Homo sapiens: one gene and its partners. The protein of the gene in region 1 interacts with the protein of each later gene in a pairwise test. Each region holds a gene or a part of one and is shown in the gene's direction. Other genes may lie near its edges. The genes, in order: ATXN10, SULT4A1 and CD1C.

The links.
Region 2: the proteins of ATXN10 (region 1) and SULT4A1 interact in binary tests that used the Homo sapiens proteins (3 or more experiments, as listed by UniProt).
Region 3: the proteins of ATXN10 (region 1) and CD1C interact in binary tests that used the Homo sapiens proteins (3 or more experiments, as listed by UniProt).

Annotation. Positions count from the first base shown.
Region 1 is NC_000022.11:45,674,793-45,678,543, forward strand, and holds part of ATXN10 (ataxin-10), read left to right. Parts: intron 1-3,751. UniProt on the Homo sapiens protein: May play a role in the regulation of cytokinesis. May play a role in signaling by stimulating protein glycosylation. Induces neuritogenesis by activating the Ras-MAP kinase pathway and is necessary for the survival of cerebellar neurons.
Region 2 is NC_000022.11:43,861,172-43,864,922, reverse strand, and holds the start of SULT4A1 (sulfotransferase 4A1), read left to right. Parts: upstream 1-2,409; 5' UTR 2,410-2,540; coding exon 2,541-2,709; intron 2,710-3,751. UniProt on the Homo sapiens protein: Atypical sulfotransferase family member with very low affinity for 3'-phospho-5'-adenylyl sulfate (PAPS) and very low catalytic activity towards L-triiodothyronine, thyroxine, estrone, p-nitrophenol, 2-naphthylamine, and 2-beta-naphthol.
Region 3 is NC_000001.11:158,287,659-158,291,409, forward strand, and holds the start of CD1C (T-cell surface glycoprotein CD1c precursor), read left to right. Parts: upstream 1-2,264; 5' UTR 2,265-2,406; coding exon 2,407-2,467; intron 2,468-3,475; coding exon 3,476-3,742; intron 3,743-3,751. UniProt on the Homo sapiens protein: Antigen-presenting protein that binds self and non-self lipid and glycolipid antigens and presents them to T-cell receptors on natural killer T-cells.

The DNA of each region.
Region 1 (3,751 bases):
TTATTTCTCTAGGATTCCATTTTATATTTGAAGAATCATAGACATAATGTAGTTGGTGGTCCTTCTGAGCTCTTCCATGCTACAAAACAAACTTCTGTCAGTGGTAGCTTGAGTAATAGAAGTGTCATGCAGTGGGAAGAGCAGTGGCTTTGGAACCATGGAGACCTGGATGTGAATCCTGGTTTAGTTTGTGAGGCTTCTTGTTTCTTTCCTTGAAAACGGGATGATGGTAGCCACTTTGACAGATTATTTTGAGGATCTGTAATATTATATGTGTAGCATAGTGGTTTATGCATAGTAAATGCCATTTATTTAGGACCTGTTATTAAAATATAACAAGGTTGTAAGTGACCAAGAATCCATTTGTGTTGAATCTCCTGTCTTATCAGAAACAAAAATTGCAGCTATTTCAGGAAGACAGTTCTAATTTTGGGGTTTCCGGAGAAGGGGATCTCAGGATCTCATTACAATTTTAGCAGCCCCCAAGTGAAAAGAAATTCTTACATCCCATTGTGGGAATTTTAAATATGTCCACAAATTCTTTGATACTCTGACCTTCTCAAGAGGAGGAGGTTAATTCTTTTCTCCTTGAGTGTGGGCTGAACTTAGTGACTTGCTCCTGAAGAGTAGAATATGGTAGAAGTGACAGTGTGCGACTTCTCAGACTAGGTCATAAAAAGCATCGTAGTTTCCTCTTTGCTAGCTCTTTCTTGAATCACCCACTCTGACAAAGCCAGCTGCCATGTCATGAGGACACTCAAGCATCCATATGCAGAGAGCTGTGTGGTGAGGAGCTGAGGCCTCCTTTGAACAGCCATGTGATGAACTACCTTGGAAGCAGGTCCTCTGAGCTCCAGTCACATCCTCAGCCACGTGTGCAACCTCATGAGACACCCTAAGCCTCTCAGATCTGTGTGAGATCATAAATGTTATTGTTTTAAAATGCTAAATTTTGGGCTAATTTGCTATGTAGCAATACATCATTAATACACCAGTCTTAATTCTCCATGCTGTGTATTAAATGCATTCTGTAACCCACTTCTTAAACAGTGTCTTGGTCACTAAAATAATTTAAACATATTGCTTATGGTCATATAATATCAGTATTGAGATATTCCTCAGCTGTTTCTTCTCTGTGTAAGATAATTCTTTTTTCTCACATTTGTTTTATACTTTTTGTTTAATGTAGATATCACCGTATTTCACATTTGTTTAACAAGTGATTTATCTTGCTGTGAGTCTTTGCAAGTCATGTTAAATTCTTTCTGAACAAGTAAGACAAACATTTAAAATTCTATTTTAGTTGCTCCTTTAATTATTTTTCTTTTTTTTTTCCGAGACAGGGCCTCACTTTGTCATCCAGGTTGGAGTGCATTTTTTCTAGAGAAGGGGGTCTCACTATGTTGCCCAGGCTGGTCTCGAACTCCTGGCCTCAAGTGATCCTCCTGCCTCGGCCTCCCAAAGTGTTGGGATTACAGGCATGAGCCACCGTACCTGGCTAGTTGCCTTTATGATGCATCCATGAGGCATCTCCAGACCCCACAAAGTGTAGAGCCAGGTGAGATGGGTTGTCATACTCCATCTGTGCTGTTCATTAAGTAGCCACTAGCTACATGTAGCTACTTAATTAATTGAAAATAAGTAAAATTAATGTTTCATTTCCTTAGTTGCATTAGCCATATTTTTTAATTTGTTTTTTTTTTTTTGAGACAGTTTCACTCTTGTTGCCCAGGTTGGAGTGCAGTGGTGTGATCTTGGCTCACTGCAACCTTCGCCTCCCGGGTTCAAGCGATTCACCTGCCTCAGCTTCCCGAGTAGTTGGAATTACAGGCATACGCCACCACACCTGGCTAATTTTGTATTTTTAATAGAGACGGGGTTTCTCCACGTTGGTCAGGTTGGTCTTGAACTCCCGACCTCAGGTGATCCGCCTGCCTTGGCCTCCCAAAGTGCTGGGATTACAGGCATGAGCCACCGTGCCCTGCCCTTTATTACTATTTTTTTAGAGACAGGGTCTCACTCTGTTGCCCAAGCTGGAGTGCAGTGGCACGATCATAGTTCACTGCATCCTCGACTTCCTGGGCTCAAGCAATCCTCCTGCCTCCTTCCCCAGTAGCTGGGACTACAGGTGTACACCACCATGCCCAGATAATTTTTTTGTTTATTTTTTGTAGAGATGGGGTCTCGCCATGTTGCCCAGGCTGGCATTAGCCATATTTTAAGTGCTCATTGGCCACATGTGATGTGACAGCACAGATATAGAATATTTCCATCATCACAGAAAGTTCTGGAAATAGTGCTCTTCTGTAGTAAGTTTTCTATAGGGGAGATTGTATTTTGACTCTTGAGTATTCTTGAAATAATGGAACATTTGGATGCTGCTTTCTATAAATTCATCTCATACTTAAACTGATACCTCATTGGTCTTCCACCTGATGAGCTTCTTGAATGAAGTGGGCACATCACATTCACTGTATGCCTGGCATCTAGCATAGAGTTGATAGTGGCAGATGCTTATCAGTTTCTTGTGGAGTTGCTGCTATTTCTATAACTTATTACTCATTGCACTTGCTTGGTCTTTTTCTTAGTCGTGTAGACAGTAATTTTTTTTTTCAGCTTCTATCAGTATAGCTCATTTTTTCTCTTCAATCTGCTTAGACAAAATGAGGTTTTCGTTGGTGTTTAATTTAAAAATTAAAAAAAAATTCAGGCCAAAAGGTCTTAAAAAAAAAAAAAAGAAAAGGCAAGTCCTGGACTTAGAGAAGTATTTAAAATATATATGATAAAGAAGTTGTTTCAGAATATATGAAGTACTCCTACCTACAACTCAATAAAAAAGACTCCTACAACTCAATTTAAAAATTGGGCAAAATCTGTGCTTTACAAAGAAAAATAAAGGCCAATAAGCGTATGATAAAGTGCTCCAAATCACTAGTTATTAGGGAAATGCAGTTAAAACTTCAGTGAGAGACTACTGCATGCCGTTTAGGATGGCTATTATCCAAAAAATGGAAAAGAACAAGTATCGTTGAGGATGTGGGGAAATGGGAACCCTTGTGTGTTGCTAGTGGACATGTAAAGTGGTGCTGCTACTATGGAAAATAATTTGGTGGGTCCTCAAAAAGCTAAACATGGAATATGACCAAGCAGTTTTACTCTTAGGTATGTGCCCGAAGAAAATGAAAAAGGACAAATTCTGTATGATTCTGCTTTTATGAAGTACCTAGAACAGACAAACTTGTAGAGACAGAAAGTAGATTAGAGGTTACTAGGATTTGGAGAGAGGGGAAATTGGGAGTTACTGCTTCATGTTTACAGAGTTTCTATTTGGGTGTTAAAAAAAATTTTGGAAGTAGAGGTGATAGTTGTACAACATTGTGAATATAATTAAAGCCATTGAACTGTAGACTTAAAATGAACAACATGGCAAATTTTATGTTATATATATGTATTTTACCACAGTTAAAAAAATTAATAATACAATGTACCAAAATCCATTTAATTGTACGCTTTAAGTGGGTGACTTTAGTGTGCCACGTGAACCCTATCTCAATAGTGCTGTTATAAACAAATCCATAGTAAGGTGCCTCTGCATCCCTATTAGAATGGCTATAATGAAAATGAGTGACACTGAATTTTGGTGGGCATGTGAAGCTATATATTTATGATTTTTAAAAAGTCACATTGTTTGGAGTAGAGGGGATGTGTTTAAAATGTGAACTCCTCCCTCACTGCTATTTTTGTTTCATAA
Region 2 (3,751 bases), 1.8 Mb from region 1:
TTGAGTCTGCTCCCAGTCAACCCTCTTTCCAATGCCCCAGGTTAAGACTATTCTCACCTCTATCACTATAGATCAGTTTTGCTTGGTTTTGACTGTATATAAATAGAATCATATGACATACCATTTTTTGTGCTTGACTTAGTTTGTTCATCATTTTGACTGTGACATTCTTCTCAGTTACATTCCTTTTTTAAAAAAATTACTGTATTCCATTGTATGAATATATCGCAATTTATCTATTCTACTGTTGGGTACGTGGGTTTTTTCCCATTTTTGTCTAACATGCTCAAATTGTTTCCGATTTGACCTATGATAATACTTTCATGTTATACCCTGTGTCCTTCTGACCTATTCCCAACATTTTTGAACTTGCAGGAGTTCAAGACTCAACAAGACATTTTAGGCTCATCTTGTACTTTCCTTGCCCTGGAGTTGGCTTTTTCTCCAAGAAACCCCAGGTTCATTTGGTGAGGGAAGTATTTAGCAAAGATCTGGGCAGTGGGTATGCCTAGTATTATTGAGATATCACTGCCTAAAGGCTTTTCCAGCAAATATAAGAAATAGGAATTTTAAAATATCATAAACTCATGTCAATACCTCCAATTCCAATCCAATACCATAGAGTTCTTCCCTGCCTTCTCGCATTCCCCACTTACATTTTCCTTCTCCCACAGTGAGAACCCTCACCTGAAACATCAGGATATTCATTCATTCACTCAATCCCTCTAGCTTTTGGCTAGATGCCCTTTTGCCATTGGCCTAATTATTCTGAATAAAGGCTGGGTGCTCGGAATGTCCTCTTTCTTTTTTGGAAAGACATCTACAAGCTTCCCAAGTCAGGATTAATTGCTGTTTCCTCTCTCTGTCTGCTATGTACACATGGCCTGCGCTTCTCAGCCCATGTGTATGTCTTTGGTGTCAGAATGCACGTGTCTCACTCTACAGTAAGAAGGAGAGAGTAGGAATAGGTCCCGTCCAGCCACTCTGCTCCAGATTCTTGTTGGTGTAAACTCCTTCCATCTTCCTGGCTACACTACTTAGAGGTAGGAATCATTCTTTTCCTTTACACAGCTGATGATGCTCGGCTGCAGAGAATGAGAGCAGGCTGTGTTGTTTTCATCTTTGTGCTTCCCCAGGCATGTTAGTAGGTGCTTCATATATGTCTGTTGAGTGCATGACTGGCAAGGGGTTGCACTGAGATCTCTAGAACTCGGTTGCTCTCAAATTATAGTTTGCACAAGAAGTGCCTTACTAAATGTATATTTTTGTAATTTTTCTCCATAGATCTGGGGTCCTGGAATTTGCAATCCAACACTCCCCTCCCCTACTCATGGGATATTAAGAAGCACTTTTTGGCTGGGCGAGGTGGTTCACACCTGTAATCCCAGCACTTTGGGAGGCCAAGGTGGGCAGATCACGAGGTCAGGAGATTGAGACCATCCTGGCTAACACGATGAAACCCCGTCTCTACTAAAACAAACAAACAAAAAATACAAAAAATTAGCCAGGCATGGTGGCATGTGCCTGTAGTCCCAGCTACTCGGGAGGCTGAGCCAGGAGAATGGCGTAAACCCGGGAGGTGGAGCTTGCAGTGAGCTGAGATCGCGCCCCTGCACTCCAGCCTGGGCGACACAGCGAGACTCCATCTCAAAAAAAAAAAAAAAAAAAAAAAAGCAAAAAAAAAGCACTTTGTTTTTTTGGCTGGACTAGGTGGCCCATACTTTTTTTTTGTTGTTGTTAGAAGATCTCGTCCTGTTGCCCAGACTGGAGTGCAGTGGTGCAAGCTCACAGCTCACTGCTAATTTTTTTTTTTGTATGTTTGTAGAGATGCGGTTTCACCATTTACCCAGGTTGGTCTCGAACTCTTGACCTCAGGAGATCCGCCCGTGCTCGACCTCTCAAAGTGCTGAGATTACAGGCGTGATCCACCGCGCCTGGCGAAGACGCATATTTTTAATAGGACCTAATATTTACCTGAAATTATCTTGGTTATTTACCAATGTAAGCTCCAACAGGGCCAGGCTTCTGCTTGCTTCTACCCTGACGCGTGTCGGGGCCCTGGCCCAGTGCCTGGCACAGATCAGCAGCGCGCTAAGCACGTGTTGAATGGACGACTACCTTTCAGGGCCTTCCAGCCAGGGTATCTCATGCGTCTGTGTTGAGCGCTTGCTGAGTGACAGAAGCTATGAGCGGAATGAACGCACGCACGACTGAGGAGGCTGCAGACCGCGGGCCAGGGTCTCTGTCAGCCCCGGCAGCGGGTGGGTGACCCCGGCCGGGGGCGGGGCGGGGAGGACGCGGCTCCGCGGCGCCATGACGTCACGCCCGTGCAGCGCCGCGGCCGCGTGCCGGGCGGCGCCATGACGTCATACCCGCGGAGCCTCCGCCGCGCGTCGGCGGCGCCATGACGTCACGCCTGCGGAGCTGCCGCCGCGCGCCGGTGGGGCGCGAGCGTGTGCGGGGCGCGGGCGCGGGCGCGGGCGCGGGCGCGTGCGGGCTGCGAGCCGGGAGGCGGCGGCGGCGACGGCGACGGCGGCGGCATGGCGGAGAGCGAGGCCGAGACCCCCAGCACCCCGGGGGAGTTCGAGAGCAAGTACTTCGAGTTCCATGGCGTGCGGCTGCCGCCCTTCTGCCGCGGGAAGATGGAGGAGATCGCCAACTTCCCGGTGCGGCCCAGCGACGTGTGGATCGTCACCTACCCCAAGTCCGGTGAGCCCCGCGCCGACCGCGCCCGCCACGCCATGCCCCAGCCCTGCAGCGCGGCCGCGTAGACGCCGCGCCCGCGCCCGGGGCTTCTGCTGGGCCGGGTGGTCGCCCTTGGCCTCCGCCCCTGCCGTGCCCACCGCTCTCCCGATGCTCGGATCCCTGCGGGGCGGGGTGGGGTGGGGTGGGGGTGGGAAGGGGCTTGGTTCTCATCTGGGGAAACCAAGGTCAGAGACCTTCGGGAGCGGCCCCTTCCGTGGAGATGGAGCCTATTTGGCCGGCGCTGCAGGAGGATGGGCCCAGGGCCGCCACCCATCCCTGCTTCTCCCTTTACCTGGCTGGCTGTGTGACCTTGGACAGGTCACTCAACCTCTCTGTTCCTGAATCCTGCCCAACCTTTGATGAGTGCAAAGTCCTGGTGTTCACCTGGGAAGGGAGATAACATGGGCGTCAGGGCTTTCAGCGTGGAAACGTAACGTCCCTCCTTTCCAGCCTGGGCTCCGGGTGGGGGATGGGACCAGTCCCCGCCTGGAGTGCCTTGCTTGTACATTCTCTTGTTTCAGGGCTGCCTCCATCACCGAGGCAGGACCTGGGGCATTCACATTTCCCAGCATTAGCTGACGTCACTTTCACAATAACAGCTGTGTGAGCTAGTGGTGGTCATTCCCACTTTACAGTCTAGGCACAGAGGCTCAGAGAGGGGAAGAGGCTGGTCCAAGGTCACTCAGCTGGTGAGTGGCTGACCTGGGAATTAAAGCTAGGCTGGTCTGTTTCCAGACCTGAGGTAGGAGATTGTATAGTACCCCATCTGAGGTTTTTAGGGAAAGGAGGTAGCAGCTTTCCTGTTCTGTAAACATGCCCTGGGATTTCCTTGTTGCCACTGTATTTGAGGCAATCACAGCGTGGTTTAGAAGGTGTCTGGCTCTAAGGTCACGCCGGACCAGCAGTCGGGCAGTTTCAGGAAAAGCTGTAGGCTTGGCTGTTGTAGCTGTATGGAGTTCCAGACACCTGAGGGCAGGTCTCTGACATTCTTCTGAGGAAGATTGGA
Region 3 (3,751 bases), on another chromosome or scaffold:
CATGTTATTTTCAACTTGTTTGCTTCTGAATTCAAGAGGGCAAAAAGGATGATACTTACTGGGTTTTATAATATTATCCAATATAGCTAGGTTATGTTGCAGTTATAAATAAACTTTAGAACTTGGAGGCTTAACACAATGAAGTTTATTTCTCATGCAGTTAAACTGCATGTAGATCAGGCTGCTCTTCTCCATCTCATAGTCTTGCCATTTAGAAATTTGACTGCCAAGTTGGTACCACAGGGTAAGATGATCAGATGTGATATTTTCAGTGGTCAGGACTGGAGCTGGCTAATGCTTCCAACACCACACATTCCATTGCCCAGAACTCAGTCCATGACCTTAACCCAACTATTAGGAAATAGGACAGTTGCATCTTTCCTGTAGGAACATGGAAAAAAATGTGAATAAACACATAATGTGGTATCTACTATTGTTTTCTAAAACCACAAACCAAGTATTTGCCATTAACAGCACAAGATGAGCAAAGATAACACCTAGTGCTTATGAATGATTTGGGTAGGATTTGAACTGGGTATTGCTCTTAAAGATATTATAGTTCATAGAAATTGCCACATATCTGTGGCCATGATAGGAAGAGCTCATTGAGAATGACTTCTGGCCTCACTATTAACGTTGACAAACCTAAGAAATAGTGTATATATCAAAGTATCATGTTGTACACAGTAAATACATAGAATAAATATAAATTTAAAACAGAAACAATGTTACAAATGGGATTTTCCTTTTTAAGGCACGGTCTTGCTCTGTTACCCAGGCTGGAGTACAGTGACATGAACATGGCTCACTACAGCCCTGACTTTCAGGGCTCAAAAGATCTTCCTGCCTCTGCCTCCCATTTAGCTGGGACTACAGGCATGTGCCACCACATTTGGCCAACTTTTTAATTTTTTTATCGAGATGAGGTCTAACTTTGTTGCCCAGGCTGGTCTCAAACTCCTGGGCTCAAGTGATCTTCCCACCTTGGTCTCCCAAAGTGCTGGGATTACAGGCATGAGTCATTGTGCCTAGCACAAATTCATGCCCAGATTTTAAGTGACTGCTCCAATGCATTCAGTGAATAATTAATATGATTTAAGAAACACTATAATAATAAATGTATTTCCTGGATCTCAAAAAAACTGTGTTCATGTATTTACACATATTAACCAGCCAGGGTCACTGATAAGTCACTGAATACTTCATATAAACTACTTAAATCAAACATTGACAAATGCTGCCCTTTTTATACAATGTGTTTTGGTCAGATCACAAAACAACTTAAATTTGGATTTTTGTGGTCTCCCCATGTATGAGTCCTCTTGAAAAGCTGCATGTTCTGACTATCACAATCGTATACCATTCCACACTGTACAGAATTTTCAGTATTTAGTTGAGATGCATGCTGTTCTTCCAGGACTTCAAATTATGAACTTCCCAGGGGGTTAGTCAGTCAAAATGCTGCTCTAGAGAATATAGTTCTAAGTAGATTTGTATCTGGGATTCTATACATTGAAATTAAAATCACAATGCATTTTAATTTTTTGTTTAAACATCTGCAGTTTAAAACTCTTTGATAGAAGAGATTACATTGTTAACCTCTGTGTGTTTATATGCCTAGTAAGACACTGGTATCAACCATGTACTATGTAATTTTTTAGTGAATGACTATACAGATTAAATGCAGTAGAAGGGCTTCTTTATATTTGTTATGGTCCTATGCATTCTGAATGGCTGCAATTTAATCTCTAAGGATAATGTAGAGTGGACTGTAGTTTATATAATTGTGCAGGGAAATCTTGGAAGATGTAAAAAGCAACGTCTCCAATTTATAAAAGAATCAGTGAGAATGAGGAAATAAGAAAGATGGGTGAAAAGAGGTGAAATTGGAAAGAGAAAACTTTGAGGACATTCAAAAGGGGGAAAGAAAGAATGGAGTGATGAGAAGAGGGGACACTATGGAGAGTGGAGGCAAAGTTAAGTGGAGAAACTGGAAGAACTGTGATCTATTAAAACAAGCAGGAACTGAAAAAATGACATGGTTTCTCCTTTTTATCTTACAAATGACATGCAAAATCCAGAGGGACAAAATGACCTTTCTTTCAATGCCATACACCACTTTGTCTAAGGCAGTTGAGGAAGGGAAGTAGATATAATGGAGCTTAGTGGCAGAGCAGCTGGAATCCTGAGAGAAGAGAATAACTTTAGTTCAGAGCAGGTGGGGAAATGAGAGATTGAGTAGGAGGACCAAGGTTGAGGGAAGCAGATCTTCTTAGTTGCTGTCAGCGGCTGATGGGGAAGATTGTTGGTAGAAGGAAGTCAGAATATAGGTACAGAGGGATAAGTTTGCTAAGAACAGAGATCAGCAAACAGCTTTTCTGAGAGAAAGAAACATCTGCAAATGACATGCTGTTTCTGCAGTTTCTGCTGCTAGCTCTTCTTCTCCCAGGTGGTGACAATGCAGACGGTAAGAACATCGCTGTCAGCTGCAAGGTTACATGTATCTGGGTAGAGTGTGCTGGGCTTTCCCGAGATGGATCAATAGAGATGCCAGAATGCTTGCCATCTGAGCATACCTGTCTCCAGGTCCAGTTTACTCTTTTGGAGGATGGTGGCAGAGCATGGGCTCTGTGTAAGGAAAATGTTATAGCTAAAGTAGTCATTAATGTTTCTCTGTGGTAACTGGTTCAATTTCCATTTCCTCTCCATTTTCCGTTAAAACAATCAGGGCCCAGGAAAATGATGTGGTTTCTCCTTTTTATGTTACAAATGACACGCAAGGTCCAGAGGGATGAAGCAACCTTTCAATGCCACGCACCACTTTGTCTAAGGCAGTTGAGGAAGGGAAGTAGATAAGATGGAGCTTAGTGGGAGAGCAGCTAAAATCCTAAGGGAAGAGAGTAACTTTAGTTCAGAGCAGATGGGGAAATGAGAGATTGAGTAGGAGGCCTAAGGTTAAGGGAAGCAGATTGTCTTAGTTGCTGTCAGTGGCTGATGGGGAAGATTGTCTGTTGGTAGAAGGAAGTCAGAATATAGATGTAGAGGGATAAGTTTGCTAAGAACAGAGATCAGCAAATGGCTTTTCTGAGAGAAGGAAACAACTGCAAATGACATGCTGTTTCTGTAGTTTCCGCTGCTAGTTCTTCTCCTCCCCGGTGGTGACAATGCAGATAGTATGAACATCTCTGTCAGCTGCAAGGTTACATGTATCTGGGTTGAGCATGATGGGCTTTCCCAAGATGGATCAATGAAGAAGCCAGAATGGTTGCCATTTGAGCATACCTCTCTCCAGGTCCAGTTTACTCTTTTAGAGGATGGTGGCAGAGCATGGGGCTCTGTGTAAGGAAAATGGTATAGCTAAAGTAGTCATTAATGTTTCTCTGTGGTAACTGGTTCACCTTCCATTTTCTCTCCATTTTCCTTGCCTCTCTTTTTTTTTTTTTCCTTACACTACTTGCCCTTCTTCCACCAAAAGCATCCCAGGAACACGTCTCCTTCCATGTCATCCAGATCTTCTCATTTGTCAACCAATCCTGGGCACGAGGTCAGGGCTCAGGATGGCTGGACGAGTTGCAGACTCATGGCTGGGACAGTGAATCAGGCACAATAATTTTCCTGCATAACTGGTCCAAGGGCAACTTCAGCAATGAAGAGTTGTCAGACCTAGAGTTGTTATTTCGTTTCTACCTCTTTGGATTAACTCGGGAGATTCAAGACCATGCAAGTCAAGATTACTCGAAATGTAAGTTCA